Regions from separate parts of the Homo sapiens genome. Here region 1 is linked to region 2. Evidence: fine-mapped expression QTL. Tissue or cell type: skeletal muscle. Region 2 holds a variant in brackets; the other region holds the start of a gene. All regions are shown on one strand. Distances are between the middles of the regions.

The links. PIP is the estimated chance that this variant, and not a neighbour inherited with it, causes the effect.
Region 1: RASGRP3 starts here. The variant in region 2 is fine-mapped to the expression of RASGRP3 in skeletal muscle (FUSION, PIP 0.92).

Annotation. Positions count from the first base shown.
Region 1 is chr2:33,467,511-33,482,471 of GRCh38, forward strand. RASGRP3 (RAS guanyl releasing protein 3) reads left to right here and starts at 9,139. Exons shown (of 18, transcript NM_001139488.2): 1 at 9,139-9,197. RefSeq lists enhancers at 8,475-8,794, 12,255-12,424.
Region 2 is chr2:33,434,190-33,451,867 of GRCh38, forward strand. It overlaps a transcript of RASGRP3 not described here. Among named protein-coding and RNA genes, the nearest start is that of MIR4430, 25 kb to the left of the region's middle. The variant A/G (reference allele first, on the strand shown) is at 8,004.

The sequences.
Region 1 (14,961 bases), 32 kb after region 2:
AGATAGAATTTACTGAGCTGGAGGAATATGAGAGAATGTTGCATACAAAGTCTCCTAAAAGGAAAGGAAGGCAGAGATGGGATGAGATGTGGTATGTGTTAGTGCTTCAAATTAACAGCAGGTTTTGCGTCCCAACTTGACGCAGCTTGTGTGGAATTTGGTGTAGGGCAAATGGACCCACAGCTTCAGGAGGGAGCTGCTAGCAGGGGAAGTTGTACTATCTGACAGTGCCTATATGAGATTGGTACCTTTTGGGAATTTCTACCTAAGGCGGTGGCTCAGATAGGCACAAAGGCCCATTGGGACCTCCCTGAGAAACAGAATAAGAGGTGCTCAGGCAAGACCACACTTCCGCCCTCTTCCTGTATCCTTGAAACCTTTCAGAGATTTGCTGTCAAATATTGACCAGAAAGTTAAAGAAGCAAGACTTGGGAAAAAGTGACTGGTTTTTCTAATGGATGGTGAGGCTTTTTCTTTCTTTCTTTCTTTCTTTCTTTCTTTCTTTCTTTCTTTCTTTCTTTCTTTCTTTCTTTCTCTCTTAGTGTACATGATTTGTTTTTTTCTCTTTGTGTAGATGATTGAAGTACTTAAGTGTCTTTGTAAGTCCAGTATCTCTTTTCTTATTTTAAAAAGATCTCATTAAAAAATGAACTAATAAATATTTATTATAGAAACAGTAGATAAATGCTGATGAGCATAAAGGAGGAGGAAATATATGTGACCCCCAACTCCCAGAAATAATCACTATTAAAAATTTGATATATAATGTTTCAGATTTTTAATATATTCACATATTTTCTTAGAAAAATGGGATTGTACTGAATAAACTTTTGTAACTTTTATATCTCACTTAATCGATGCTGAATATTTTTCCATGTTACTAATATGCTTCAACATTTTTTTTTTTTTGAGACGGAGTCTCGCTCTGTTGCCCAGGCTGGAGTGCAGTGGCATGATCTCGGCTCACTGCAACCTCTGCTTCCGAGGTTCAAGCGATTCTCCTGCCTCAGCCTCCTGAGTAGCTGGGACTACAGGTGCACACCACCATGCCGGGATAATTTTTGTATTTTTAGTACAGACAGGGTTTCACCATGTGGGCCAGGATGGTCTTGATCTCCTGACCTCGTGATCCACCTGCCTCGGCCTCCCAAAGTGCTGGGATTACAGGTGTGAACCACTGTACCCAGCCACTTCAACATTATTTTATAATTGCATAGTGCCATATCTTATGAATATGTTCTAATTTATTCAACTACTTTTGGCACCTAGATGTTTTTCTAATATTTTCTTAGTATAAGTAATGCTGCGTGAAATATCCTTATACATATGCAATCCATATTCTTTTCTTAGGATATATTTCTAGAACAGGAACTGCTGAGTTAAAGGGTATTCACATTTTAAAAAGCTTTTGACATACATTACAAAATTATCTTCCTCCTATGTTGTACGATTTATATTCTTTCTGGTAGAGTATGAAGGTGCCATTTTCCAAACCTCCTGCCAACACTGAGAATTTTCGTTTTTTCATCTTTGTCAAGTTTATAGATAATAAATTGTATCTTATCGTTGTTTAATGTATACTCCTTTTTTAGGGAAGCTGACTTTTTCATGTGTAGATTGGTCATTTATGTTTCTTCCCTTGTGAACTATTTATTAATATCCAGTTGTTAATTGTAAATGCTATTTATATGTTAAGACCATTAACCCTTTACCATACGTATTTCACTTTTGAATCTCATTTTATTATTTGTAGGTTAATTTTGATTACCGTTGGATTATATTTTACATATATGTTTTATATTTTATGGTTTAAATCGTGAACTTTTATCTTTATAGCTCCTTCTGTTGTGACTGTGATTGAAACGTTTTCAGGACAAAAGTATTTAATCATGATTAAAACAATTTTAAGATTATAAAACCAATCATGTGATTCTCTTCAAGTTTGTATGTGATTTTTTTTTTTTTTTTGACATGGAGTCTCATTCTGTTACCCAGGCTGAGTGCAGTGGCGCGATCTTGACTCACTGCAACCTCCACCTCCTGGGCTCAAGTGATTCTCCTGCCTCAGCCTCCCTAGTAGCTGAGACTACAGATATGGGCCACCATGCCCAGCTAATTTTTTATATTTTTGGTAGAGAAGGGGTTTCACCATGTTGCCCAGGCTGGTCTCAAACTCCTGACCTTAGATGATCTGCCCACCTCGGCCTCCCAAAGTGCTGGGTTTACAGGCATGAGCCACCGTGCTGCTGTACAGCGTTTTTATGTTTAACTCTTTAGTCTAACATGCTTTTACTTTGTGTATGGCATGAAGTAATGATTGCATCTTAATTTTTCCGAATAGTTAATGATTTAACCTGTTTTTGAATAGTTTATTCTTTTCCCACTGGGTTTAAAAACCATATTGAACAAATACAATAAACATTTTACTGTAGTTCTTCTATGTGTATTTCTGGGCTTTTGGCTCTGTTCCATTGCTCTAGTTCTTTTGGCACTAGTACCAAACTTTAAATTCACGTTATTTTTAGCCTATTTAGTACCTAATATCTCCCTTGTGGTTCTTTTCTAAAATTTTCTTTACCATTCTCAGTTTTTTATTCTTTAAAATAAACTTGAGGATTTTTGACCTGTTTGAAAAATTTATTTGGGATTTTAAGCAAAATTTGATTATATTTATAAATTAATTTGAGGGAGAATTAATATATTTACAATGTTAAGTTTTCCAGTACAGAAAAACTTTCCAATACAGAAATGTATCAAACTGTTTTTAATTTTCTCAGTAAAGTTACATTTTTAAATAGGTTATTCACTTTTTTTATTCCTAGAAATGTTATTGTTGTTGTTGCTATTATAAATAATACTATAACTAAGAATTTTTTTTTTTTTTTTTGAGATGGAGTCTCACTCTGTTGCCCAGGCTGGAGTGCAGTGGCGCGATCTCAGCTCACTGCAAGCTCCGCCTGACGGGTTCACGCCATTTTCCTGCCTCAGCCTCCCGAGTAGCTGGGACTACAGGCGCCCGCCACCATGCCCGGCTAATTTTTTGTATTTTTAGTAGAGACAGGGTTTCACCGTGTTAGCCAGGATAGTCTCGATCTCCTGACCTTGTGATCCACCCTCCTCGGCCTCCCAAAGTGCTGGGATTATGGGTGTGAGCCACCACGCCCGGCCAAGAATTATTTTCTATTATGTTTTCTAAGTTTTTGTGGGTTATATGGAAAATTTCATATATTTCTGTATAATTGTTCCGTGGCCAGAACAATTAATTTTGTATACTTATTTTGTATATTTATTTGTAACTGTTCACCTCACTTTTTAATTATTTAGAAGCAAATTTTAGTTTGTTCTATTGAGAAAATGAATATTACTCAATCTGCAGGTTGAATACTTTTGTCTCCATTTTTCTCATAAAATTCTTCTTTAGTTTCTTTTTCTTGCCTGGTTGCAGTGGCTCAAATGTCTAGAACAGTGTTAAATGGATGGTAGTGATAATGAGCATGCTTTTCTTGTTTCTGATTTTAACATTAATACTTCCAGTATTTTACCATTAAGTATGATGCCTATGTTTGATTTGAGATTTGAATTAACATGAGTATCATGTTAAGAATCAGTCTTTTAATTTTGTTTTATTAATTAAAAAATTGATATTGAATTTTATCAAATGATTTTTCAAGATTATTGTGGCAATCCAAAAGTTTTTCTCTGTTGCCCAGTCTGGAGTGCAGTGGTGTGATCATACCTTACTGCAGCTTTGATCCCCTAGGCTCAAGTGATCCTCCTGCCTCATCCTCCCAGGTTGGTAGGACTATAGGCATCTGCCATCACACTGGGCTATTTTTTTTTTTTTTTTTTTTTGTAGAGATGGAGTCTCGCTATGTTGCCCCTGCTGATCTCAAACTCCTGGCTTCAGGTGATCCTGCCACCTTGGCCTCCCAAAGCACTGGGGTTACAGGGGTGAGCCACTATTCCCAGCCTTATTTTTTACATCTTTAGGGCAACCTATGTTTACGTATGAAGTTAGTCTGTGGTTTTCTTTATTATGCTTTATCAGTTTTTTTTTTTAAGACAGGGTATTATGTTAGCTTTCTGTTACTTTTGTCCACTTGAACACTTCATATACCATGGGAGTTAATTCTGCTTGAAGCTCAGTTAGAACTTGATTGTGTAAGTAATCTGAACTAAGAGCTTTTTTTGGAAATAATTCCTTATTAACTTTTACATTTTTCCATGGTTACTGATCTGTTGTTTTTTGACTTCTTCCTGGGTCAGTTTGCTTCTAATTATTATTTTGGCTATGTCTCCCAATATTTGATATGTGGTATTCTCATCACTGAAACCTTCTAAGCATTCATTCTGTAATTGTGTTTTTAATTTATTCTCCAATCAATGATTTTTTTTTTTAAGAACTCTAAAGTTTCCCCAAGAGCGTGGGGTCTTTTTGACTTACACTTTTGTAATTAATGTATAGTTTTATTACAGTGTGATCACAGAATATGGCCAATTTCTTTTGGAAAGAAATTACTTACAATTTTTTTTTGGTAGCCTAATATAAAATCAAGTTTTGCAAACTTTTCTTATATTTTTTTCTTAATGGGCTAGACAGAAGATCCTTCTCTTTAATTATTCATTTATTCATCGAGGATTGTTTCCACCATGTGTCTCATACATGCCAGGCATTGTATTAGGCATTGCAGGATATAAAATAAGTCATAAGCTTTGTCTTAGATTGGTAAAGTTTGGATGGAACACAGACACATGTAGACCTAATTATAATACAGAAAGAAATGCAACCGCAGCGAAATGTACAAAAGCAGCAGGCAGCTAGAGTGGGAGTGAAGCCCTGAAGGTTCTGGGAATACAAAGTTGCCTACGATGGCCCGGAGGGGCTTTCAGTCCTAGCGTGTAAAACATACATTGAGATCAGAGACAGGCTTTTTGGAGGCAAGGTGATTAATTAGGAAATCACCGCAGACCTTCAGTAATAAATCAGAACATATGAGGGGCGGTAAGAGTGCAAGATGAGAAGAGAGGATTTTCACACCTAAGGGGCAGATAGCGGAAGAGAAGCCCAGACCTGAGGATGAAGGAGGTAGTAGTAAAATTTTATAGACGCCATGGGAGAGCTTTTCAAGGGGTGGTTGGTCAGTTGGGACAAATAGAGCCAAAAGGTCAAGTAAGATGGCTCACGCCTGTAATCCCAGCACTTTGGGAGGCTGAGGCGGGCAGATCACGAGGTCAGGTGTTCGGGACCATCCTGGCCAACATGGTGAAACCCCGTCTCTACTAAAAACATGAAAATTGCCGGGCGCGGTGGGTCACGCCTATAATCCCAGCACTTTGGTGACAGAGCAAGACTCCGTCTCAAAAAAAAAAAAAAAAAAGCAAAAAGTGTCGGTTGCCTTTGGTCTTTGGGGACTTGGAAAGAGCAGTTTCAGTGAAGTGAGGGAAAAAAAGCCAAGCCACAAGTAGGTTGAGAGTAAATGGGATGTGAGATGGTGAAGACAAGTATTTTTTCAGGAGTTTAGTTGTGGAGGGAATGCAGGAGTTAGGGCAGTAATTAAAAGAGCAAGTCTGGCTGGGGGCAGTGGCTCACGCCTGTAATCCCAGCACTTTGGGAGGCCAAGGTGGGCAGATCATGAGGTCAGGAGATGGAGACCATCCTGGCTAACATGGTGAAACCCCATGTTACTACTAAAAATACATGTCTCTACTAAAAATACAAAAAATTAGCTGGGCGTGGTGGCGGGTGCCTATAGTCCCAGCTACTCAGGAGGCTGAGGCAGGAGAATGGCTTGAACCTGGGAGACGGAGCTTGCAGTGAGCCGAGATCGCGCCACCACACTCCAGCCTGGGCAACACAGTGAGACTCCGTCTCAAAAAAAAAAGCAAAAAATCAGAAAGACTGTTGTTAGGATATAAAGACAATGTGAGAACGTGAGCATGTTTAGCTAATGAGCGCACGCTGAGAGCAAGAGAAGGCGTGGTTGTTGTCGAGAGTCCTAAGCAGGTGGGAGACACAGGGTGAGACACAAAGCCGAGGTAGGAGGTGGCCTCTTGACAGGAAGAGGGCACCTCTTCTTGAGTCGAAGACAATGCTTGGAACTGGTAGGGAGTGTGGGCAGAAAGATGGGATCTCCCCCATTTCTTTGCAAGGCTGTGTTATTGTAGAACCTTTAGTCACACTCCTGGACTCTGACTGAAAGGGTCCTGGGTCTTGGCCTCTGTGTTAACAGTTTGCTTCATAGGGAGGATTGAGGATCCATCCCTTCCTCTCCTGGCTATAGAACTAGAAAAGAACCTCTACACCAGTGGTCCCTAATGTATTTGGCACCAGGGACCAGTTTCATGGAAGACAATTTTTCCATGGACCGGGAATGAGGGGATGGAGATGATTTCAGGATGAAACTGTTCCACCTCAGATCATCAGGCATTAGACTCTCATAAGGAGCATGCAGTGTAGATCCCTCGCGTGCACAGTTCACAATAGTGTTCATGCTCCTATGGGAATCTAATGCCACAGCTGATCTGACAGGAGGCAGAGCTCAGATGGTCATGCTCCCTTGACTGCTGCTCACCTCCTGCTGTGCAGCCTGGCCTCTAACAGACCATGGACAGGTACCTGTCCATGGCATGGGGGCTGGGGACTCCTGCTTTACACTTATGATGTAGTTTGGATGTTGTGCCCACCCAAATCTCATGTTGAGATGTAATTTCCAGTGTTGGAGGTGGAGCCTGGTGGGAAGTGATTGGATCTTAGGGGCAGATTTCTCATTAATGGTTTGGTACCATCCTGTTAGTGCTGTTCTCATGATAGTGAGTGAGTTCTTTTATTTATTTGTTTATTTTAAGACAGAGTCTCACTCTGTTGCCCAGGCTGGAGTGCAGTGCAGTGGTGCGGTCTTGATCTTGGCTCACTGCAACCTCTGCCTCCCAGGTTCAAGCACACCACCACGCCCGGCTAATTTTTGTATTTTTAGTAGAGACAGGGTTTTGCCATGTTGGCCAGGCTGGTCTCAAACTCCTGACCTCAGGTGATTCACCCTCCTCAGCCTCCCAAAGTGCTGGGATTATAGGCATGAGCCACAACACCCAGCTGATAGTGAGTTCTGGCAAGCGCTGGTCATTTAGAAGTGCCCCCTGTCTGTCTTGCTGCTGCTCTGGCCATGTGACTCATCTGCTCCCACTTTGCCTTCCACCATGATTGTAAGTTTCACGAGGCCTCCCCAGAAGCCGAACAGATGCCAGTATCATGCTTCCTCCATAGCCTGCAGAACCATGAACCAATTAAACCTCTTTTCTTTATAAATTACCCAGTCTCAAGTATTTATAGCAATGCAAGAATGGACTAATACAACTTAACTTTCCTGAGGCTGTTGTCGCTGTTGGGCATTGAAGAGTTTCTAGAAGTCCCTGTTTCTTTATGTGGCATGCAATGGATCATCAGAATAATTAACCCAGTCAATGGTAAACAAAGTGATGGATGGATGCCATCAGATCACAAAAGTTTCTATTACTGTAAATACAAGGGGGTAAGTAAATCAAAATAATGTTTCAAATCCTCAGTAGGCCTCTTTTTCTGTTTCTAATTGAAGATTGTCACATCAACACATAAACAAAAATGCCTGTGAGGGAAATGTGTATTTTATGCATTGCATTTTTATATCTGAAGTTTATTTCTATTACTAACTTGAAATGCTGAGGAAGGGATTTGTTTTGGTGCTTACAAAATTCTCCCATTTGCTCTTCGGACTCTCACAAGTTGACAACAAATTACTGCCCTGATAGTATGGTGAGACTGAGGGTTTTTTGTCTTTTTCTCTTATTCTAGAAAACACTGTATCCTCTATATGGAGGGAAATTTCTGGTTTGATTAACACTGTAAATAATTATGAGACAAAGCCTAAATATAAAAGATTACTCACACAGGCTCTTACACTGAGTAAGATATTATGTGTTAAAAATCAGGGTTAATAGTTTAACAGGCACATTATGGTTCAGAAATCCCCTGGGGGACTTCAACCATCTTTTCTGGATGTTCACTTTGCCAAATAGGCTGCCTCTATGTCATATCTCTACCTGAAGGGCAGGCTCAGACACTGATTCGGGGAAGTGTCACCCTTACTATACCAAGAAGTCAGACATCCAAGGTCAGACACTACGTAAAGTCAGATACTTCAAGGGCTTTCCTTGGAAGGGAGGATGAAAAGGGAAGGGTGGGAACATCAGCTCAGGTGAGACATATGAATTCAACAAAACATCAGGGATGGTTTGCCACGTTTGCGAGCAGCACAGAAAACGGCAGTTTGCTCCAAGTTCCCAGCACACCAAAGGGGGCAGTAGTGCGTCTGTAAAGCGCGTTGTCAACTTGGTGATAATTTCTGTTTGCATTCACACTCGCCGGCTGATAATCTCAGCTGCTCGATGCAATTCAACAGATAACAATGCGGAAGTTTGGTCTAAAGCTACCTGAAATCACTTCCAAGAGCTCTTCAGATAAAGCTGCCTTTGATAGTCTTCATTAACCCCTCCCATATTTGCCCCTCAGCGTCCCTTGGCTTAGCAGCCCCGGCCTTTGAAGTCCAACCTAAGCATTCTTAGATGGTGAGTGAGGGTCTGCCTTCCCCAGCACCAGCCACCTAGTCAGGCTTGTGGCTCGTCTAACAAACTGGAGCCTGAGATTCTGAGAAAACGAAACCAAACAGTTGTACTCCGGGGTTAACACAGAGCAACTTCCACCTGCTGTGCGAGTTGGTGATCCTCTCTCTTGCCGTTCGAGAGCCCCAGTGAAACTTGAGTGAGATGAGAGAGCATGGAGCCTGCCAGTCTCCCCCTCTGCGCACACACACACGCAAACACATTTAACTTTCCACTTGCAGTGACCTGCCCTTCAGTGTGACTTATCAGCTGTTTGGCTTTTGTCACTAAAGGAAAACAAATTGTGGAATATCCCGCTCTGCATGCTCATGAGATGGCTGAGCCAACTCAGGGGTTATGAGGTGGTTTGCGAGTGAGGAGAAGAATGATCTTCAGTTTCTGACCTCCTGGCACGGTGGCGGGCGGTATTTATCAGGAGGTACATGTGACTGGTTAAGACTCAGAGCCCCAGCTTGAAGGAAACAGCTGCTCTCGGCGTGCTCCGGCACTTGGCAGCTGGACAGGCAGAGTGCTGATGTGAAAAATACCACGACAAAACCACCCTAGTAAGTAACTGGAGAACTTTCCTCTCTCTCTCTCTCTTTCATTCCCTCTCCGTGTGTGTGTGTGTGTGTGTGTGTGTGTGTGTGTGTGTTGCAAGCCACCAACAACTTTTGATTTTGATTTTGGTTTCCCTCTGGCACGATAGAAGGAGATATTTTATTTGTACCTGTTAACAGCCATTGGTGTTTTCACAGCCCTTTTTTAGAACCTGTTATTTTCGGCAACGTGTCTTGTAACTTTGAGGATGAATGGGGCATATGGCTTCATTCCTGTCTAGGAAACAGAAAGTTTGTTTCCCAGTGTTCAAGATTTTTCTAGTCCATGGTGTTTAGGTTCAAAGTCAAGTTCAGGTTATGAAGTAGAGACTTCATTGAAGTGAGTTGATGACTAGATTTGATTTTAATCTGTTTCTACCACTGAAACCTGAAAACGTAGTTGTTTAAAGTAACTTGTGAATTTATTGTATGGCTGATTTGATTTTTCCTATTCAATTTTTGAGAATATCTCATTTAACTGTGTAGAACTGTCTGCAATATAGAAGACTGACAAAATAATATTTAGATTCACATTAGAAATCATATTTAGATTTCTTGCATGGTTTCCAACTAATTGAAAGCTGTATTTTATAGCGACTTTTTTTCCCCCCAACAAGCTAATTCACCTTCATTACTTTAAAATGTTCAGTTGCCCCTGGTCTTCCTTCACCTTCATTACTTTAAAATGTTCGGTTGCCGCTGGTCTTCCTTATTTTAGTGTTTTCGTGATACTCAGGCTGTTTTTTCCTTGTTTATGACCTGACTGGGAAAGTGCTGCCTGCAGCTGATGATTAACTCTGGGAGGCCTGGCATCCAAATTACGGAGAGAACCGGCTCCTTCTCAGGTTCATTCAGCAGTAATGGTGCTTGCGCTTGGGCGAGCAGCAAAGCAGGCACCATGCTGGAACTGAGCTGTTGTTCGGTGACTTTTGTCCTTCCTTGGTAGTCACCAGACAGAATGCTTCAGAGGAAAGGCAAAAGGGGAAAAGAGAGAGGGCAGAGCTCTAAACTGATGACGTAAAGCTCTGAAAGTGACAGGTCTTTGAATCAGAGGCTGCAGGGAGATAACCAAACAGGTTCCTGTTTCTGGAGATCGCGTGGATCTTGAGGAGGGTGGGCAGAGAGGGGCTGTTTTTATTTGAAGTCTCACCAAATAGTTGTTTTGCTTGTGATAAGCCTAGGACAACCTGGAGTGCGCTTGTTTCCTCGTGTGACAAATGGATTCTCATACAGGCTCAAGCTATACGGTTTTCTTTCGCCCTCTGCCCCCTGCCATGAGGGAACACTGTTCTCTCCCCACCCTTACCATCCTTTGTTGTTTGTGGAGAATGGATTAAAAATGACCCAGGGCACGGCACTTCTGCGATCGAGTTTCCCTCAGCACAGTGGGTCTTGAGTACCGCACCAACCAATGTTCTCTGATGGAAGCAGTTTCGGATGCCCTGTCTAAACAAATGGCTAGTCTGACATTGAGAAGTTCTCCACCTTCTTTTCCTTCAAATGTAGAAGAATCCACAAAATGTAGAGTGGCCAATGAGGAAAAATAGTCCCAACTTCTCTGTTCCTCGGTATGGCATTTGTGTGAGGTCCTTGGGTCAGCCCGCGGCCATGTGGTCTGTGACTTCCCTGTCTGACTGCTGGGGGAGGGGGTTCCTCCTGAGTCATTCTTTAGGGAGTTTGTTCCTGGTATAGTTTCAGATTTTCCACAGGTTGATAGTGGAAGAGAACCCTCTGGTGAAATTGTGTCTCCGGAATCATCGAGCCTCCCATAATAAAATGGAATGTCTAAATGGGAGCAGTTGAATTATCCAACTGCTGTATTTTTGAGAGCCAACAGGCTCCTTTGAAAAACCCATGCCTTTTCAAAATATTAATAGCAAAATAATAAAAAATAATGATTTTACTTGCAGATAGTACATCCATTGACTCAAAGACTTTTTGACCTGGATAGGAATGATAGAATGTGCGATTTAACTCTTTCGTATCAAAGATGAGGAAACTGTAGCAAATTTATCGGAGTTACGGTGCAGAGCCAGAAGAGAGAGCTCAAGGCTTCCATCATAATTTCAACGCTAATAACAATCCCTTACTTTTATTGTGCACTTACTCTGCCAAATGATGCGCTAAACAAGTGTATTTATTTTCATAGTCTCCTCACAATAACTCTATGTGTTACATATTATTATTCCAGTTCTATAGATAGGAAACTGAGGTTCTTGACCATACGTAACACAGACAGGAGGGACACCCTTAGTTACTTGACCATATGTAACACAGACAGGAGGGACACCTGGATCTGACTGTAGAACCTGTATACATTAAAAAATAAAAGTGGAATCCCACACATTTAAATGTAAAAACTCACAACATGCAAATGAGAGTATTTCCAGCACAATATGATTACACACACAATGTGTGTTATGCCCTTTTCGAGCTCTCCATGACAGGAAGGGCTAGGTTTCCCCCTGTGACAGTCCAAGCCCAAGCTCTCTCTATAGGATCGCTGGCTGGTGGCATGTTTTTCTCTTTGAAAATAGTTCAGTGACGGTCTTGATGTTGGTAAGAACAGCAACCGGGAACTTTGTTATTAACCTCCAGCACACGGCTCCCATGCCCCTTCTGGCCTTTCCCTCCAGTTTTCCTGTCACTCCTTTCCTTTGGAGGACAGCCACTCCACCCATGCCCCACCCCAAATAGCTGGCTTAGTGTTGATAAAGCTATTATCAGACCCATCCCCTTTGCTCAGCCTGGAAGGTTGGTTGTCCGAGTAGGTTGTTGATGAATAGAAACCATGCACTCTGCCACTCTGCGCTGTTTTTTTGAGCTGTGGGTGTAAGGGGTGGGTCACGGGGCAGGGGACTAGCTGGCAGTGGTGAGGGAGGAGAGGTATGCTTTTCTTCACTGCCTGCACCTGCCATTTACCCTGAGTCCTACTTCTCCACACACCAGTTGCATATCTAAAGCTCTGACTGTCTCACGGGTGGGCCATAAACCTGTGGATTTTCTGGGTCATCAGACTTGCAGAGCCCTTAAGAAACCTGCCTCCTGAATCCTTTTAAAAATGTCATTTGGCTGTCCACATTCCTCCACTTTAGGTTAAGTGTCAAAATTAGGGTTGGAGATAATGGGAAAGAGCACCAGGTAGTATGTAATCAACAGGGAACCTTTTATTAATCAGGAGGAAAATCAAGCAAGTATGCCATGTGTGGATGTTTCTGAGGAAGTTATCAGTGTTTCTGCAAGGTCGTTCTGGCAAGATTACACATTTTGAAGATCAAGCTATTTATAGCATGAAAGAGGAATTTTTTTTTTTTTTTTTTTTGAGACAGTCTCGCTCTGTCGCCCAGGCTGGAGTGCAGTGGTGAGATCTCGGCTCACTGCAAGCTCCGCCTCCAGGATTCACACCATTCTCCTGCCTCAGCCTCCTGAGTAGCTGGGACTACAGGCGCCCGCCACCATGCCCGGCTAATTTTTTTGTATTTTTAGTAGAGACGGGGTTTCACTGTGTTAGCCAGGATGCTCTCGATCTCCTGACCTGGTGATCCACCCGCCTCGGCCTCCCAAAGTGCTGGGATTACAGGCGTGAGCCACTGCGCCCAGCCCGCATGAAAGAAGAATTTTTAATCTTTAATTCCACCTGCCTGCTGCCTCTAAAACTAAGCCCAACTCAGTAGTAGTCAGTGATGTGGTTTGCTAGACCAAAACCACTGGGAATTGCCTCCAATCCTTGCTAGGAATTGCTCACTTCTGTAGAAATTGGCTTTGTACAGGGGGTGTTATATGGGTACACGTGAAGTGGACTCAGAATCACGACAGAGTCCACAAGTCATACTCTGGAGCTGATTTGAAAGAAAATAAAATGCTTGATTCGTTTTGGGGTCCTTTTACAATAAGGAAACACATTCTGGGATACAATGCCTATTTTGTTTCTTTGTTTTTGCCCAATTGTGTGTTTCAAAGACATCTGCTTCCAAAAAGTTAACTTTCCTGGATCCTCCTTTCCCTTGGTATTGATTGCTCACTTATAGTCCCTGGAGTTAACAGCTCCTGTGTCATGTTTCCACTGCTCTATGGGATTTGAAGTCTTTGGATTTTTTTGCTGTTTCAAGTGATTATTATAGCTTCAGAGTCTGTGGTGTGCAGAGTCGCTGTGCTTTGATCTTTGAGCTCATCTTTGGTATTGAGAAGTCGAACCCCTGCATTTATATATGCCGGCATAAGGCACTTTCTTGTACCTTGCCATAATCCCATGAAAGAGGGAGGGTATCATCACCATTGTTTTCAAAGAGGAAATAGAGGACGAGAGAAAATGAGTGACTTGTCTATGGTCATGGGAAAAGTAACTGTCAGAGCTCAACTATATCTCTTGTCTACTGACTCCAAGTGCCAGGCTTTTTCTGTTGGTTATGCTATCTTTCTTTTGTTTTGTTTTTGTTTTTCAGATGGAGTTTCACTCTGTCGCCCAGGCTGGAGTGCAGTGGCACGATCTCGGCTCACTGCAAGCTCCGCCTCCCGGGTTCACACCATTCTTCTGCCTCAGCCTCCCGAGTAGCTGGGACTACAGGTGCCCACCACCACGCCTGGCTAATTTTTTTGTATTTTTAATAGAGACGGGGTTTCATCATGTTAGCAGGATGGTCTCGATCTCCTGACCTGGTGATCCACCCACCTCGGCCTCCCAAAGTGCTGGGATTACAGGCATGAGCCACTGCGCCTGGCCTAGTTATGCTATCTTTCAAAGAAAGACCAATTTCAACTATTTCATGACCATGCACTTACACAATCTGTGGAATTATCTTTGGTGATAAAAAGTTGTGTAATTTGTATTCTCTTCAGATAGGCAAAGAGTGACTGGATAACCGATTTGCGACATGCCACTCATGATATTTCCAAAGCCTATGGACATTTGACTTTGGAAACAGGGTCAGCTTAGTCTTCAGACACCGTATTTGCTTAGGATAATTTTGTTTGTTTGTTTTTTCAGACAGAGTCCCACTCTGTCACCCAAGCTGGAGTGCAGTGGCACAATCTTGGCTCACTGCAACCTCTGCCTCCCAGGTTCAAGCGATTCTCTTGCCTCAGCCTCCTGAGTAGCTGGGACTACAGGCGTGCACCACCACACCCAGCTAATTTTTGTGTTTTTAGTAGAGATGGGTTTTCACCATGTTGGCCAGGCTGGTCTCGAACTCCTGACCTCAGGTGATCCACCCACCTTGGCTTCCCAAAGTGCTGGGATTATAGGCATGAGCCACTGTGCCTGGCTAGCTTAGGGTAATATTTTTTTTTTTTTTGAGATGGAGTCTCGCTTTGTCGCCCAGGCTGGAGTGCAGTGGCACAATCTCGGCTCACTGCAAGCTCCGCCTCCCAGGTTCATGCCATTCTCCTGCCTCAGCCTCCCGAGTAGCTGGGACTATAGGCGCCCGCCACCATGCCGGGCTAATTTTTTTGTATTTTTAGTAGAGACAGGGTTTCACTGTGTTAGCCAGGATGGTCTCGATTTCCTGACCTCGTGATCTGCCCGCCTGGGCCTCCCAAAGTGCTTGGATTAGAGGCGTGAGCCACCGTGCCGGGCCGCAGCTTAGGGTAATGTTTTTAAAGGAACTTAGTGATCATTTTTCTGTCTTGAAGACTCATATAGTCAAGTTGGAGTTATACCAACTATGGCATGATGTAACGTTACCTTTTAGAGACAATTTGGTTGTTTCCTGAGGTATGAAAACTGCAGTCTGCT
Region 2 (17,678 bases):
AGTCATTCACCTCTCTTTTTCTTTTTTTCTCTATCCGTCTTTTTTTTCTCTCTCCCTCGCATTCTGTTTCTCTCTTTCTCTCTGAAGAAACATTTTCCTCCCAATCTGTACTTAGGATGTGGACACCCTTACTTTTTCCTTATCAGCTCTGGCTTGAGCTCATTGTTCAACCTATTGCTTCTATTATACGGGGGCCTAGTATGAAACCCAAGCATGGACAAGAAATGGCTGGGTTTCAAAACAATAATCAAATCACTAAACAAAAATAGGGGCTGGGGGCCGGGCGCGGTGGCTCACACCTGTAATCCCAGCACTTGGGGAGGCCGAGGCGGGTGGATCACCTGAGGTCAGGAGTTCAGGACCAGCCTGGCCAACATGGTGAAACTCCATATCTACTAAAAATACAAAAATTAGCCGGGCGTGGTGGCACATGCCTGTAATCCCAGCTACTTGGGAAGCTGAGGCAGGAGAATTGCTTGAACCTGGGAGGCGGAGGTTGCAGTGAGCCAACATCGCGCCACTGCACTCCAGCCTGGGTGACAGAGCAAGACTCTGTCTCAAACAAACAAACAAAAAAAGTGGGGGCTGGGACATTGTATTTCCATTAGAAGCTTCATTTCTTCACTGTTTACTTTGGTTTTGTTTCAGACAACTTATAATTTTTAGATATAGCTGTTAGTAAAATTTGCTTAGAATTTATCTATATGTAGGATGACTCTTCACCATGTGTGAGTGCTGTTGTCTCTCTCTTAAATACTATCCTTTTGTTTTTTCCACTGCTTTTGCCTCACATTAGGTAGCTTCTCCAAGTAATTAGGAAATTAGTATGTCTTCTTAACATTAGATCTAAAAACTCTTCTAGTCATCTAGATGGAGGTTACCAGCATAAAAAGCATATACATTATTTTCTGATTCTTACATTAAAAAAATCTACTCTTAAATTCCTTTTTGAAGAGATATTAATAAACATGCACACAAAGTAATTATGTAGATCCATGTTTCTCCTATTTAGTGAGCATCAGAATCACCTGAAGTTAATCATCTGAGCCCCAGCCCCAGAGGTTCTGATCCAGGGTTGCTGATGCTACTGGTCCTCGGACCACTTTTTTTTGTCTTTTTTTTTTTTTTAATTTTTAAAATTTTTTTAGACGGAGTCTCGCTCTGTTGCCAGACTAGAGTGCAGCGGCACAATCTCAGCCCACTGCAACCTCCGCCTCCTGGGTTCACGCCATTCTCCTGCCTCAGCCTCCCAAGTAGCTGGGATTGCAGGTGCATGCCACCATGCCCAGCTAATTTTTGTATTTTTAGTAGAGTCAGGGTTTCACCATGTTGGCCAGGATGGTCTCCATCTCTTGACCTCGTGATTCGTCCACCTCGGCCTCCCAAAATGCTGGGATTATAGGCGTGAGCCACCGCGCCTGGCCGGTCCTTGGACCACTCTTTAAGTAGCCCCTCCTATGGAGAAATTCCTTGTGCTTCTTCTCAAAGTGTTACTCACGTAAAGAGCAGCTAAAACAAACACTTACTGGGTGGCTAAAACAAACACTGTTGACAGACAGTAAGTGTAGAATGACAGAGTAAGGGAGGGAGGTGACAGATAAATAGATGACTGTTAGATAACAAATCAATACATAGACATCTAATAGAATTATATGAAGGACCTTAAGTAATAACAGTTTTAAAAATTGTCTTTAAAATTAATGTTTTGAAAGCATGGCATACACAGTATAATATTTGAAAGGGAAAAAAATATGTATGTCACAAATTAAACTGTCCCTTCATTCCAGACATACACTCCCACCTTGAAGAATCAACCATATTTAAGTGTCTATAGGATATGACAACTTATAGTAAAACTGAGACCATAGGAAATTAAAGAAAATGTTGACTATGGTGCACAGACCAAAGCTGAATTATTTGAGGCCAAATTTTTAGTTTGTTTGTTGGTATTCATTTGAAAGAAGCACACATGCACTCATATACCTAAGGCTGCTTTCTGAAATCAAATACATTTCCTGCCTTCTTCTTTCCTCAGTACTCTTACCACCAGCCTATTTATAGCCCAGGAAAGGAAAAAGCTCCACTGGAGGCAGGAAAACTAAGTTCGGAAAGAATAGGAGGAAGTCTGCCTGCCATTTAGCCAAACAACCTTTAATTCATTGAGCTCAAAGCTTAGCAGCTTCAATGTTGTTGTTAGGCATAAACAGCTTGCAAATTTCAATTTTTTTTCTCTCCTCACTTTTGAACTAGATTTGGGCAATGGAGGTGATGACAGCATTTTAGAAGACAGAACAGGAATTCTAGGTGTTTAGGCACGTTGAAGAGAAACTTGCTAGAGGTGATGAAGTGGAAAGAAAAAGACAATTCACTATAGGGATCAACATTATTGCAGTTCTGCAAAGGTAAGTGTCATTTAAAAATCTGTCTGTTGTTGCGTCTTAATGCACTTCATGAACTATGGATATTAGCCACAGACAATGGATATGATTTGAGGTCCGATCCTCATGTAACTTTTCAATATGCTTTGCTCATATCTCTGAAGAAATGTAGAAATCAACCTTGGTTATGACATCTTCAGGTTTTTACAATAAATATTTTAAAAAGTTGTTTCTTGACAATAACTTTACAAACTTTCTTCAGTTTCATTATTATCAGGGGTTTAGATAGTATAAATAATTTCATTGATGATCACCTTTAAAAATATATTTTTGATATTTGTCTGCTTGTCTGCCCTTTTCAAATTGCTGATTAATAATCCACCTATAATTTATTTGATGAATAATAGTTTAGAATACTTTTAATAAATAGGCCTTCAAGCAGAAATGGACAATTGTATAAAAGTTATATATAAAATTTAAATTTTGTATAAAATTAAGCAAAGATAACAAATTTTAATACAGGTTTTTTGTCTTGAACATTCATTTTTCAGAAAATGGAGAATCTTCTAGAACCACAAAAAACAGCACTGAATAGTTTCCAGTGATAGAAAGTGTTCATAGTAGTTATGTAGATTTAAATTATTATTTCCAAACATTCGTTCATTATGTTTTGAGTACCTTGAAAAATGTCACTGGGTTTGGAAATGGTAAGGTTGAAAGGAAATGGATTAAATCCAAGAACAGTTGATGTTGCCCACAAAAACTTGGAAAGCTACTAGGGACATTCCAAATTCTTTTAACATTCTTTGCCATTAAACAAGCACATTTGTTTAAATGATGCACCATATTTGCATCCGCTGCTGATAATAACCACATTTGTGTCTTGGAGTAACTTGATTAATGTTACCACAATGACTAACAGAGGAATACGGTTCTGGTGGATTATTGAAAAGGAAGAGCAGAAGGAAATGTGTGGCTGTTATTTCTTTTGCCCTATCCCTGTTTGAGATTGGGATGTTTAGAATCTGTCCCAAGAAGATAGCAAAGCTGGAAGCCAGAAAAGCAGAACCAGCTAGAACCGGCACAGGAGGCCAGGACTCGGCTCAGGCTCAGTGTGGATCCCACTGGCCGTCTTCTTTCCTGGGAGAATTTAAGGGTTATTTTTTACTGATTAGAAAATTATAATTCCATGGAAACTGTTAGAAAGTATAATATGTTTGAATAGAAAGATCATGATTTCTTAGCTGAACTTAAGTGGTTAAAAAAAAAAAGAGAGGGAAATGAAATTAATCTGAATAAATATGATAGATCTGAAGAAACAAACAAACAAACCCTCAGCATTTATTTTCAGGACATTCCAGTGCTGCAAAGTCAGTTCTGAGTCCACTTTAGATCTTCCACAGAGTGGACTCTAAGGTGACTTAATTAATTGCCACGCCACATGGCTCTAATTACAGCAATGTTGCTTACAGCAATTCTGATTTCTGATCATGTTGAACTCATTTCCCTTAGAGTTTCAAAACAACGTTCACATTTGACACATTCACATGTTTACATTATGAGAATGAAAATGTTTTAACTGTATGTAAGGTTTAAGAAAGATAAAATTATGAGTTAGATGTATTATTTCAAGAATATATTTTTTCACTTGTAAAAGGCTCATTGCTGGTCATTGGTTTCCAGATGACCATAGATTTATAAATGTATTCATGGGGCCAGGCGTGGTGGCTCACGCCTGTAATCCCAGCACTTTGGGAGACCGAGGCGGGTGGATCACCTGAGGTTGGGAGTTTGAGATCAGCCTAGCTAACAGGGTGAAACCCCGTCTCTACTAAATATACAAAATTAGCTGGGCGTGGTGGCACATGCCTGTAATCCTTGCTACTTGGGAGGCTGAGGCAGAAGAATCGCTTGAACCCAGGAGGTGGAGGTTGCAGTGAGCCGGGATCGCGCCACTGCCCTCCAGCCTGGGCAATGGAGTGAGACTCCATCGCCAAAAAAAAAAAAAAAAAATTGTATTCATGAAATGCCAGGTATTTAAAATACAGTTCTTAGAAATTGCTTAATAGTTCTACGGTAGTTCTACAGATTGTTTTATGTATCTACAAGTTGCTGAGAACATTTTAAGTTAGAGTTAGCTAATTTTGAAAAAAATTATCAATTTTTTAGCTTTTTAATTAATTACATAGAAATGTATTGCCTTATTTCCAGAGTAACTCCTACAATCACCATGTGTTTACAGTTTACATAATAATAGAGCCAACCCTGGCCTTCACATTTAAATACAAGTAAAATCAGGTTACTGAAGAGACCATATGAAGCAGCAAGAAATTTAGATGTCACCAAATACAATGTACAACTTGGGGGATGTGTTGAAGAGGGATGTGGGAGAAGCATGCCAAGGTCTTCTTCTTCAGACTGGAAACTACACCCACCTGCCATCTGGCCTGACGCTGGGTGGGGTAGAGGGGTATTGCACGATGATTCTTGTGTATTTACAGGCACCTTAAATTCAGACAATTGGCTTTTGGAGACTTTTCTCCTACTGTCTCATCCTGTATTACAGGTCTACAAGCAGCACCACACCATGAACACCTATTTATTAAGTTTTCTAACTTACAATATAATCTCTATCCTTGAAAAACTCAATGTTAAGTTGAAAAAAGGGAAGTATACAGGACACAAAGCATCCTGTATGTGGAGCCAAATTAATGACGTAGATAATGAGTGCCACCTAAGGAAGACCTGATCCAGACGGGCTTCATGGAGGCCTGAGGCTGAGTTGGGTCTTGGTAAGCGGGAGGAGAGCTGATGGATGAGGGAGATGAGGACATCTATGATAAGAATGGAGCTGTGAGCATGAGCAGAGACAGGAATGGCCTTCCTGCGCCCAAGGAATAGGGCTGTCAGATGAAATACAGGATGCCCAGTTCAATGTGAATTTCAGATAAACAACAAACACTTTTTTAGTCTAAGTGTGCCCTACTGCATGACTGTGTATGAGACTTAGTGCATGGGACCTACTTATACGAAAATAGTATTTGCTGTTTATCAGAAACTCACACTTAGCTGGGGGCCCTGTATTCTGATTTCCCAAATCTGGCAACTCTTCAAGGGAACTGAGAGTCAGCCAGCTTGACAGCAGCAGAGGGAATGAGCCTATGGAGCAGGAAAGAAGTGCCTGGAGGAGGCTGGGTTCAGAAGGTGGTGGGACTTTAATGGTGAACTAAGGAGTCAAGAATTTAAAGACACCTGGGGCCGATGAGAAGTTCTGAAAAGGGAAATGGCGTGCATAAGATCTGCCGGTTGGAGGCAGAACTTGCTGGGGGAGAGATCAGGGCACCGAGGCCTGGGTTCTGATGAAGACAGAGAGAAAGAAGCCCAATGGAGACACATCTGAGAACAAACTGACGCGTTTTGCAAACTAATTGGGTATGGTTATAGGAGGAGAGAATGTGTTCAAGAGGATGTTATGTTTTATGGCTCCATTCAAAGAAATGGCCAAAGAGACAGCAGCAGGTCAGGGAGTTAGTGAGAGGGATGGGGATTTTGGTTTCAAACACAGGAAATTTGAGGGAATGATGGAATAGTCAGATAGAAATAGTAAGCGAACAGCTGAGAATGGAAAACAGCTTAGGAGGGAGGTGAGAACTGGAAATAAAAACGACAACATTTATTAAGCACTTACTCGATGTCAAGCCTTTTATCTCCATTATCTCCTTCTGCCTCTGCAACCATCTATCGGCAGGTTCCATTGCCAGCCACATTTTGTAGTTGAGAAAAGTGAGGTCAGAGAGATTAAGTAACATGTCCATGATCACATCATTAATGAGAGGCAGATGGAAAATGGAACCACCATGTGTAGGGGCCAAAGCCCTCACAACTGAGACTCATATACAGAATGTTGAGCCTCTGGCTCTAGATTCACTTTCTCCATCTGCAAAGAGCTAAGGGCGCCAGTTGCTCATGCTAGAACCCAGTTTTTAGCCAGGTTCCAGGTCTTCTATTGTTCGTAACTTTGATGGCCCTCGTAGAATTCTCCATCTTTTGGTTACTCTCTCTGAGAAAATGGAAATCATTTATACCCAGAGGTTTTCCTTATTTATTAACCTCCAGAATCGTTTTTCCCCTTAGTGGCTCATTTTAAATTTTCCCTTGGTCATCTGGTGAAATAAAGATTATGATGAAGAATCTATAATCTCATATAGTTACTTTTTTTGTATGACATGTGTGGCTAAAACATACTTATTTTACAAAAATCCCGAATACAATACAATTTTATTAAATTTCATCTTGAGGTTGGACATTAGATCTCCAAACTTGTTTTTTTTTCTTTCTTCTTCAAGACAAGGTCCCCCTCTATCACCCAGGCTGGAATGCAGTGGCACAAGCTCGGCTTGCTGCAGCCTCCACCTCCAGGGCTCAAGTGATCCTTGTGCCTCGGCCTCCCAAATAGCTAGGACTGCAGGAACACGCCACTGCACCCACTAATTTTTGTATTTTTTAGTAGAAACAGGGTTTCACCATGTTGCCAAGTTGGTCTTGAACTCCTGACCTCAAATGATCCTCCTGCCTCGGCCTCCTGAAGTGCTGCGATTACAGGCGTGAGCCACGGCACCCAGCCTCCAAACTTGTTCTTTAGTGTCTGCTATTTTGTATCCTTTGACCTATATGTCCCCATTTCCCTTTCCCCCCTCCTCCCACCCTTAGTGGCCACTGTTTCATTCTGTATCTCTGTGTTTTAGGGTTTAAAAAATATTCCACATATAAATTAGATCGTGCAATTTTTAGAAAAAGGTTATGCTGAAGAGAAAAGACCAAGGGTGTCAACCTCCTCTCCTTGTCCCTGGCTGCTCTCTAGTGGCAATACCAGAAAACAACGCTCAGCCCAGAGACAGCAGAGCCAGGCACTAGAAGCAAGCTCTTTAGGAATCTCTAAATAGCAAATTCAAGAAGGCTAGTTGTGCTAGGAAATTCTGGAAGAAGACTCCATGGAATTACATACACCCTTACAGCTTGTTGGCCTGAAAGGCATTTTGAATAGAACAGTTTTAGATTTATCTTAAACTTTCTAATCATTAAAAATACTTCACCTGTTTACCATTTTAGGCAGGCACATATGTTTGGCTACTAAACTTTCAATGCACATACGTGCCTTTTTATTAAGATTTCCTAGATCTTTGATTCTAAATATTTACTTCAAAATACACAATATATTTTTTAGTAAAAAGCAAAAAGTCTATCTTTTAGGGATCTATTCTTAAAAACATCATAAATTGAGACAATAATGCGTGTGTAAAAGACTATTCATAACAGATACATTTTGTAACTAACCTAAATATACAGGGAATTGTTAAATAACATTCCACAATATGAAATTTTATACAGACATTAAATTACATTATAATATTTAATGACATTGGAAACTATTCATAGTAAATGTTAAGTGAACATTTACACTTACATTCAGTGAATGTAAGAAGTCTACAAAATTATGTATATAGTGTGACCCCATTTGCTTAAAAAATATATATGTACATATGAAAAAAGAAGTAAGAGCTAAAAAGTCATACACCAACTGTTAACAATAGAAATTTCTTAGCCTGGCCAATATGGTGAAACTCC[A/G]TCTCTACTAAAAATACAAAACTTAGCCAGGCGTGATGGCATGCGCCTGTAGTCCCAGCTACTCAGGAGGCTAAGCCAGGAGAATTGCTTGAACCCAAGAGGCGGAGGTTGCAGTGAGCCAAGATCGCGCCGCTGCACTCCAGCCTGGGTGACAGAGCGAGACTACGTCTCGAAAAAAAATTTCTGGTTGGTGGGATAATGGTGATTTTGATTTTCTACTTTGTCTCCAGGATAAATAAGCATGTACTACTTTTATAATCAGGAACAAAACCCAGTATGTTTTCAAAATGTACAGAGCTAAGTCTCTGTTCTGATTTCTTGCTGTCATGGCTGACAATATGTTCATGCTAATTCATTGCCATTGACGGCCTCTCCTCCAAGTAAAGGGCTATATCCTGTTTGTGACAGCATAATCCATTGTAATGGAAAAGATTATGATGCACTGGCCTGTTCTATGACTTCACTGCATTCATCAGCAGCAGGAAACAAAGACATGCACTTTTTTCATAATTGTTTTAGTAATAATTGACAATTGGAGGAAATGAATGGCAGAAAACAATTATGGGCAGACAAGATGGTCAGCAAATCAAACTGGGAAATGCAGGGGAGCCCGTCTCAGCTTTATTCATGTAGCGATTTCAGAACATTACAAAGATATTATTGTTTTGTTCTCCTACAGAAATCACTATTGTTTTTTTTTTTTTTCTTTTTTACCAGCAGTTACACAATTCTTTGCTGGCAGCAATGACTTCCAATGTGTTTTTAATTCAGTAATCCGGTAATCCCACAACAGGGATTTGCTGCTGAACTTTTTATGTTTATTAATATTCAGGGTCAGTGTGAACGCCTCCCTGTGCACATAGCTAGTAAAATGCACAGCGATATTGCTGTGACTTTTCTTGCCTCTGAATAACTCCCTGTTGCCCAGACATAGAATCTTAAAAGTGTTTCTTTCTATTACATTTATAAATAGCAAATTCATGTTTCTATTTTTTAAATTGTCCCTAGTCTTCATTTTAATAGCAATGGGCAGGAGAATAAAACAACAAAAACTCAAAACAAGTGAATTAATGATTCAATATCTAGTTTCCATGCCATGAAATGGGCACATCCCTTAGATGAAAATGAGGGATGGGTTATCAATTAGGAAACAGTTAAGTAAGGCAGGTATTATGCTGTGGTAACATTTATTTATTTCTCTTAGCGGCCTGTGTTCATAGTTGTCTTGCTGGGTATTACTAGAATTCTTTGGATGGGGAAACTAAACATGTGTGGGCTGTTACATCACTCCAAGTCATACTCTTCTCTGGTTAGCCTGATATGGAGTAAAATTCGGCAGCAGCTCTGACTTCCAGTTTTAAAGACTACTTACTGCTCTTACTATTTATTATGGAACACCCTACAGCACAGTCCTGTAGAAATACATACCTGTAATCCCAACAATTTGGGTGGCAGAGGCTGGAAGATCACTTGAACCCAGGTGACCAGCCTGGGCAACATAGTGAGATCCTGTCTCTAAAAAAAAAAAAAAAAAAAAAAATAGCTGGGCATGGTGGTACGTGCTTATAGTCCTAGATATTCAGGAGGCTGAGTTGGCAACATTGTTTGAGCCCAGTTGTTCAAGTCTACAGTGAGCTATGATCACACCACTGCACTCCAGCCAGGGCAACAAAGTGAGATCCTGTCTCAAAAAAATTAAAAAAATAAAATATAAATAAAATGTGAGCCACTAATGTGACCTACATAGTTCATTTTACATTTCCTAGTGACCACATTTCAAAAAATAAAAAGAAACAGATAAAATGAATTTTAATATCATAGTTTAAGGAGTGGGGGATAGTGCCTTACACCTGTAATCCCAGTGTTTTGGGAGGCAAAGGTGGGAGGATTGCTTGAGGTCAGGATTTCAAGAACAGCCTGGGCAGCATGGCAAGACCCTGTCTCTACAAAAACAATTTTAAACATTAGCTGGGCATGGTGGTGCATGCCTGTAGTCCTAGCTACTCAGGGGACTGAGGTGAGAGGATTGCTTGAGCCCAGTATTTCGAGGATGCAGTGAACTATGATTGCACCACTCACTGCACTCCAGCATGGGCAACAGCAAGACCCTTTCTAAAATAATAATAATAATATAGTTGATTTAACCAAATATATCCAAGATAACATTTCAACATGCACCCAATATAAAAAACCACTAATAAAAACTTTATATTCCCTTTTTGTAATAAGTCTTTGAAACCCAGTGTGTATTTTATCCTTACTGCATGTCTCAACTCAGACTAGCCTCATTTCAAGTTGATAGCTTCAGGTGCCTAGTGGCTACTGTATAAGACAGTGCAAATCTAAACAGAAGAGCTACGGTGCCACCCACAGCTCATAAATAATGTGAAATTTAGACTATGAGATATTGCTACCTTTTCTGTACTCACAGTCATCTCCATTCTGAAACATTTGAGCTGAACATTCTATATCAAGTAAGATTGAATAGTTGAATAGCAAGCCAAGGACTGGCAGTTTTGGAGATTTGGCTTATTAGAATGATTCAGCTCTTCACCTGGGCTGGGTAACTATGGATTCCTCAGTTGAGAATTAGGGCAATAGAAGTTTTTTTAATAAACATTATCCAAATTTGAAATCTGGATGATATGCTTGTAAAAGACTTTATCATAATGTTTTGAAGTGAATTTTAGGTATAGGAATAGATTCAATTACACAGCCTAAAATCGAGTTCCAAAAACCATTATAGACATTATGCTCCTAATAGTGCCTACAACTTAGTACAAAGAAATAAATCTTTAGCAATGGAAACACACACAAGTGCACATGCACACACGCACATACTTCCAACATTGTGACCACTTGCTGATGTCTTTTCTGCATTTTGCATTGTCTTATTTGAAGGATAGGAAGTATGCTATAATAATCTTCTATAACTACTATGCCTTGGGGACTCTCATGCCAGTCAGCTGGTGTGATAAAGATAGCTTCTGTGTGCTAAATACGGAGATACAAAAATAGAACTGGTGGAAGTGGATAAAATCAGAAGACACTGTAGGTTCTTATGGCCCCACCAATGGCAGAGACCTGGAAACATAGGTCTCTGAAATCCTGGCAATGAGTTGCAGCCAACTGGAATGATCACATTTTTGGTTCTTGTCTTATTCCATGAGGGTTTGGTTATGAAACTAGAGTTTAACCAGTCAGAAAATTCTGAAATCAAAATAAAAGTTAAAGACATATATAAATAATGACCATTCATTGCATGATTTACAAATTGGTAATGGTCCAAAAGTTTGTTTTTAATAATTTTCTTGGCCCTCTGAATTCACTTTACATTTTCCCCATAGAAACAAAGTTATAAATAGTGACTGCATACTGCACCTAAAATGCCACGTATCTACAACGAAATTATTACAATGTATTTATAATATATTATTTATTCTAAACATGTATGCATTTGAAATTATTCAATGAAATCTAACTATTGATGTACTATTTCTACATTAATACATTATATCATATATTAATATGCTAATAATTATATCACATTAATATATTAATAATATGTTAATTAACCAAACAGAAAAAGTATATACTGGATCAACAAAACCACCTTGAATTCAAAGCAACAAACACTAGTAAAGAATCCAGGAAGTGCCAGGTGCTATACTAGAGTCAGGGACAAGCGTAAGAGATAAATCATATTTATCTTGTTTCTTAATATTGGAGGAAAAGCAAATTTACCAACGAAAAATGAGGAAGTAAATGGAATTCTTTTTTTTAAAGGGGACTGCCTTATCTAAGTGACCCTTAGGTAGAGAGACCTTTTTTAGGCTTTTATGTCTAATTTTACTGTTAAACTTTGTGCTTGCCTTTTCCTGAAGGACAAAGTACGACTAGTTCTGCTGTTAATGTGTAGCCATTCTTTTTTGTTGGTTCCCAAATAGGGTAATTTTGTTCGTTTGTTTGTTTGTTTTGTTTTTGAGACGGAGTCTCGCTCTGTCGCCCAGGCTGGAGTGCAGTGGTGCAATCTTTGGCTCACTGCAAGCTCCGCCCCTTGGGTTCACGTTTCTCCTGCCTCAACCTCCCTAGTAGCTGGGACTACAGGCACCCGCCACCACGCCGGGCTAATTTTTTTGTATTTTTAGTGGAGATGGGGTTTCACCATGTTAGCCAGGATGGTCTCGATCTCCTGACCTCATGATCCACCCGCCTCGGCCTCCCAAAGTGCTGGGATTACAGGCGTGAGCCACCCACACCCGGCCCAAGTAGGGCAATTTTTTTTGGAAATTTTTTGGATTTTTTTTTTTTTGGTTCCCAAATAGGGTGAGATTTCTGTGAAGTAACACTTGGCTAAGAAGTAGAAGAGAGGAAAGTGAAGAGAATGGTTAGAATTAAATATGCAGGCACATGAGAATTGTGCATGATTGTCCAGTTCTCCTTGGAGAAAGGGTGAGGAAGACTAGAGACTGAGCCTCAAGAAATGATCCTCAACAGCCTCTAGGGTGGGGAAAAGGAAGGGAGGGAATGTGTGCAATTTCACATTCAAATTGCACATACAAATTTCCGAGTCAGTTAAAGAAAAATCTCTTGGTGAGTGCCATTAACTGTTGGATCCTGCAGAGACTACCATTAAAAAAATATATCAATAGAAAATGAGGAAGGACTGGGCCGGGTGCGGTGGCTCACTCCTGTAATCCCAGCACTTTGGGAGGCCGAGGCGGGTGCATTACGAGGTCAGGAGATGGAAACCATCCTGGCTAACGCGGTGAAACCCCGTCTCTGCTAAAAATACAAAAAATTAGCCAGGTGTTGGTGGCGGGTGCCTGTAGTCACAGCTACTCGGGAGGCTGAGGCAGGAGAATGGCGTGAACCTACACTCCAGCCTGGGTGACAGAGCGAGACTCCGTCTCAAAAAAAAAAAAAAAAAAAGAGGGGGAAGCAGTGACCAAGTCAGGCATGAATGGGCCTTCAGGGAAGGTCAAGAAATCTGGGTTGAGTGGTCCCACTGGTTGATTTCACAAAACAGTGAGAATCAGGGACCTACAAATGAGTTGAGATTATGTATGTAGCCCAAGGAACAGGAGGCTGGGCCAGGGGGACAGACTGTTCTGGAACACTCTCTTATTTCTTCTGCTGGGAACTAGGGCTGTTTCTCTGGTAATGGAGGCCCTCTGACAAAGACAAAACATAGGGTAATTGTGCCACATGCTACTCAAAGAGGTGCCCCAACCTTGGAGTGTGCACATTTTTTTTTTTTTGAGACAGAGTTTCACTTGGTCACCCAGGCTGGAGTGCAGTGGTCCGATCTTGGCTCACTGCAACCTTCGCCTCCTGAATTCAAGTCATTCTCCTGCCTCAGCCTCCTGAGTACCTGTGATTACAGGCGTGCACCACCATGCCTGGCTAATTTTTTGTGTTAGTAGAGACGAGGTTTCACCATATTGGCCTTGAACTCCTGATATCAAGTGATTCGACCGCCTTGGCCTCTCAAAGTCCTGGGATTACAGGCGTGAGCCACCGCACCCGGCCCATGTCTGTGTTTTCTATCTGAAACTGTCTCCTCACCTTCTGGTCAATGAATGCATCCTTCTTCAATGTCTTCTCTCAATTTCTTTTGTTTCTAGGATATTTTCTTTTAAAACATCCATATCTCTTCTTTGCCATGGAAACTACACCCAATCTACCTGAACCTGCGGCACCCCTCTGATGACCCATTTGGATTCTCTGATTTCACTGCCAAGATTCTCAGTGAGTATTCCATCACATACCACCTTTATTTTCTCAAGTCTCTTTCAGATTTTAAACACATAAAATCTGATCACATGTTTTCAACCCCACTGAAACTGTGATGTCAGAAACTTTGTAAATTATGAAGTGAACAACATTTTTGTTCTTCCTCATTTGATGATGAAGCTGTCACCAGTCTTGAGTGAATTTGCCCTCTTCAGAAATGCTATAACATTTATATACTGTAATACTATATAAATACTTTCTTATATATTTAATCCCATGTCTGGTGGTGTTTCTTTAATTTATTCAACTACTATTTGCCTCTGTGGTTAATTTTCCAAGAGTTTCTTCTCTCAACAACCTAATTATAAATTCCTTCATGTCTAGGCCTTATTTTGTGCTTTAAAAAAAACTCTCTGTGGTACACTAATGTTCATAGCAGCATTATTTATAATAGCTGAAAGGCAGACACAACCAGACACAACCCACATGTCTATCAACAGATGAAGAGATAAACAAAATGTGGCATAGACATGCAATGGGAAATTATTCAGCCATAAAAAGGAATGAAGTTCTCATATATGCTAAAATATGAATGTACCTTGAAAACATCATGCTAAGTGAAATAATCCAGACACAAAAGAACAAATATTATATGATTCCACTTATGTGAAATATCTACAATATGCAGATTCATAGAAACAGAAAGTAGATTAGAGGTGGCTGGGGGTGGGGGGAAAGGGAGAATAGAGAGTTATTTCTTAATAGTTGTAAAGTTTCTGTTTGGTGTGATAAAAAAGTTTTGCAAATAGTGGTGATGATTGCACAACATTGTGAATGTAATTAATACCACTGAATAGTACACGTAAAAATGGTCAAAATAGCAAATTTATGTTATATATATTTATTACAATTTAAAAATTAACTATATAATATAGCAAAACGCAGTGAATTGTATGGTATGTGAATTATGTTTCAATAAACCTATTTTAAAGAAATCCCTCTGGGAACCAGATATAACCTTACATATAGTAAATGTTTAAGTAATATTTTGTATCATTTGTTGTAATGAGATTCATTAGGACACAAATTTACATGTGGTAGAGATTAGACATGTTTTTCAAATTATGCATACCAGGTATAACATGATTACTCTCTGTTTGGGGCTTTAGGTAGGTTTAGACAAAAGCCAAGTGCTGTGCAAGTGTGATTGAGACCTTAAACAATGTCTTCATCATTTCTACCTCTCCCAGATTACCAGACATAAGATCAGGTGCATGACACATACCAACTTCCTAATCTTAAATTTGGTGAATGAATGAAAGTATTAACAAAGTATGCAGAGTTACCTTGCATATATATGCATATATGTTTTTTCTCAACCAACCTTTCGTCATTGCAATTGAGACATTACTTTTTCAGACATCTACTTTTAAGACATAATACGTTATACTATGTAGATAGCATAGAATATTGTGCAGGAATCTAGAAAAAACCATGTTTGATGACATACAACAGAATATTTCATGACATTGGAATATTTAATAATATTTAGGCCGGGCGCGGTGGCTCACGCCTGTAATCCCAGCACTTTGGGAGGCCGAGGGGGGCAGACCATGAGGTCAGGAGATTGAGACCATTGTGGCCAACATGGTGAAACCTCATCTCTACTAAAAATACAAAAATTAGCTGGGCATGGTAGTGCATGCCTGTAGTCCCACTCCTAGGGAGGCTGAGGCAGGAGAATTGCTTGAACCTGAGAGGCAGAGGTTGCAGTGAGCCGAGATTACACCACTGCACTCCAGCCTGGTGATAGTACGAGACTCCATCTCCAAAAAAAAAAGGAATATTTATTACAGTGAAAATATTTATGATATATAGCAAATACAAAATGCAAACTTTTGTATATTTGACCATTATGCATTTTAGTAAAGATAAGAAAGGTATTTTATTACTTATTTCTGTGTAACAAATCATTCCAAAACTAAGTGCCTTTAAACAACTGTAAGCATTTATTACCTCACATGATTTCTTTGGGCCAGAAATTCAGGAGAAGGTCAGATTAAGGAGTTTCATTTGTGAGGTTGCAGTCAGTTGTCACTTGGGACTAGAGTCTTCGGAAGACTCAATAGGGACTAGAGATTTACTTTTCTTATCGTTATTTCCAGCCCCCAAGCTTTATTAAGATATTGACAAACTAAAATTGTATATATTTATGATGTAAAACATGATGTTTTGATATATGTATACATTACAAAAAGATCAAATCACCTATTTAACATACTTATCACCTCATATACCAATCATTATTTTTGTGGTGAGAACATTTAAGATATATCCTCTTAGCAATTTTCAAGTATACAATACAATATTAACTGTAGTCATTATGCTGTACAACAGAACTTATACATCTTGTCAAACTGAAATTTTGTACCCTTTGATCAAAACCTCCTCATTCTCACCTCTTCCCAGCCCCTTGCAATCCTCATTCTACTCTCTGTTACTGAGTTCAACTTTTTTAGATTTCACAAAAAATGAGATCCTGCAGAACTTGTCTTTCTGTGTCTGGCTTATTTCACTTAGCATAATAGTCTCCAGGTTTATCCATGTTGTTGCAAATTACAGAATTTTCTTATTCTTTAAGGCTAAATAGCACTCCATTGTATATACCGCATTTTCTTTATCCATTCAACTGTCAATGGATGCTTAGGCTGATTCCACATCTTGGCTATTATAAATAATGCCACAATGAACATGGAGTGTAGGTATCTCTTTGACATGCTGATTTCATTTTCTTTGGATAAATACTCAGAAGTGGGATTGCTGAAGTATATGATAGTTCTATTTTAAATGTTTTTTTCTTTTTTCTTTTCTTTCTTTTTCTCTTTCTTTCTTTCTTTTTTTTTTTTTTTTTTTTTTTTTTTTTTTTTGAGACAGAGTCTTGCTCATTCGCCCAGGCTGGAGTGTAGTGGCATGATCTCGGCTCACTGCAAACTCCACCTCCCAGGTTCACAGCATTCTCCTGCCTCAGCCTCCTGAGTAGCTGGGACTACAGGTGCCTGCCACCACGCCTGGCTAATTTTGTTTTTGTATTTTTAGTAGAGACAGGGCTTCACCGTATTAGCCAGGATGGTCTCGATCTCCTGACCAGGATGGTCTCCAACTCCTGACCTCGTGATCTGCCCGCCTCAGCCTCCCAAAGTGCTGGGATTACAGGTGTGAGCCACCGTGCCCAGCTGAGCATTTTTTCATATACCTATTGGCCATTTGTATTTCTTCTTTTGAGAAATACCTCTTCAGGTCCTTTATCCATTTTAAAATTTGAATTATTTGTTTTATTGCTATTGAGTTGCTTTGAGTTCCTTACATATTTTGGATATTGGTCCCTTATCAGATATAATACATAGTTTTCAAATATTTTCTACCATCCCACAGGCTGTCTCTACAGTCTGTTGATTATTTGCTGTGCAGAAGCATTTTTGTCTGATGCAATCTCAACTCTCTGTGTTTACTTTTGTTGCCTGTGCTTTTGGAGTCATATCTAAGAAATCATTGCCGAGACCAATGACAAGAAGATATTCCCCTATCTTTTCTTGTAGTAGTTTTATAGTTTTCAGGTGTTAAGTTTAAGTTTTTAATCTATTTTGAGTTTAAGTTTTAATCTATTTTGAGTTCATTTTTGTATGTAACGTAAGGGTTCGATTTCATTTACTGCTGCTTTCAAAGTTTTTTCTTTGTCTTTTGAGAATTTGATTGTAATGTGTCTTGGTGAAGATCTCTGTATTTAATCTGCTTGGGGCTATTTGGGCTTCATAGATCTGGATGCTCATTTGCCTCTCCAGATTTGGGAAGTTTCTTATCATTATTTCTTTACCTAAGCATTCTGCTCTTTTTTCTTTCTTTGCTACTTTTGTGAATCCCCTAATGTATATATTGGATTGC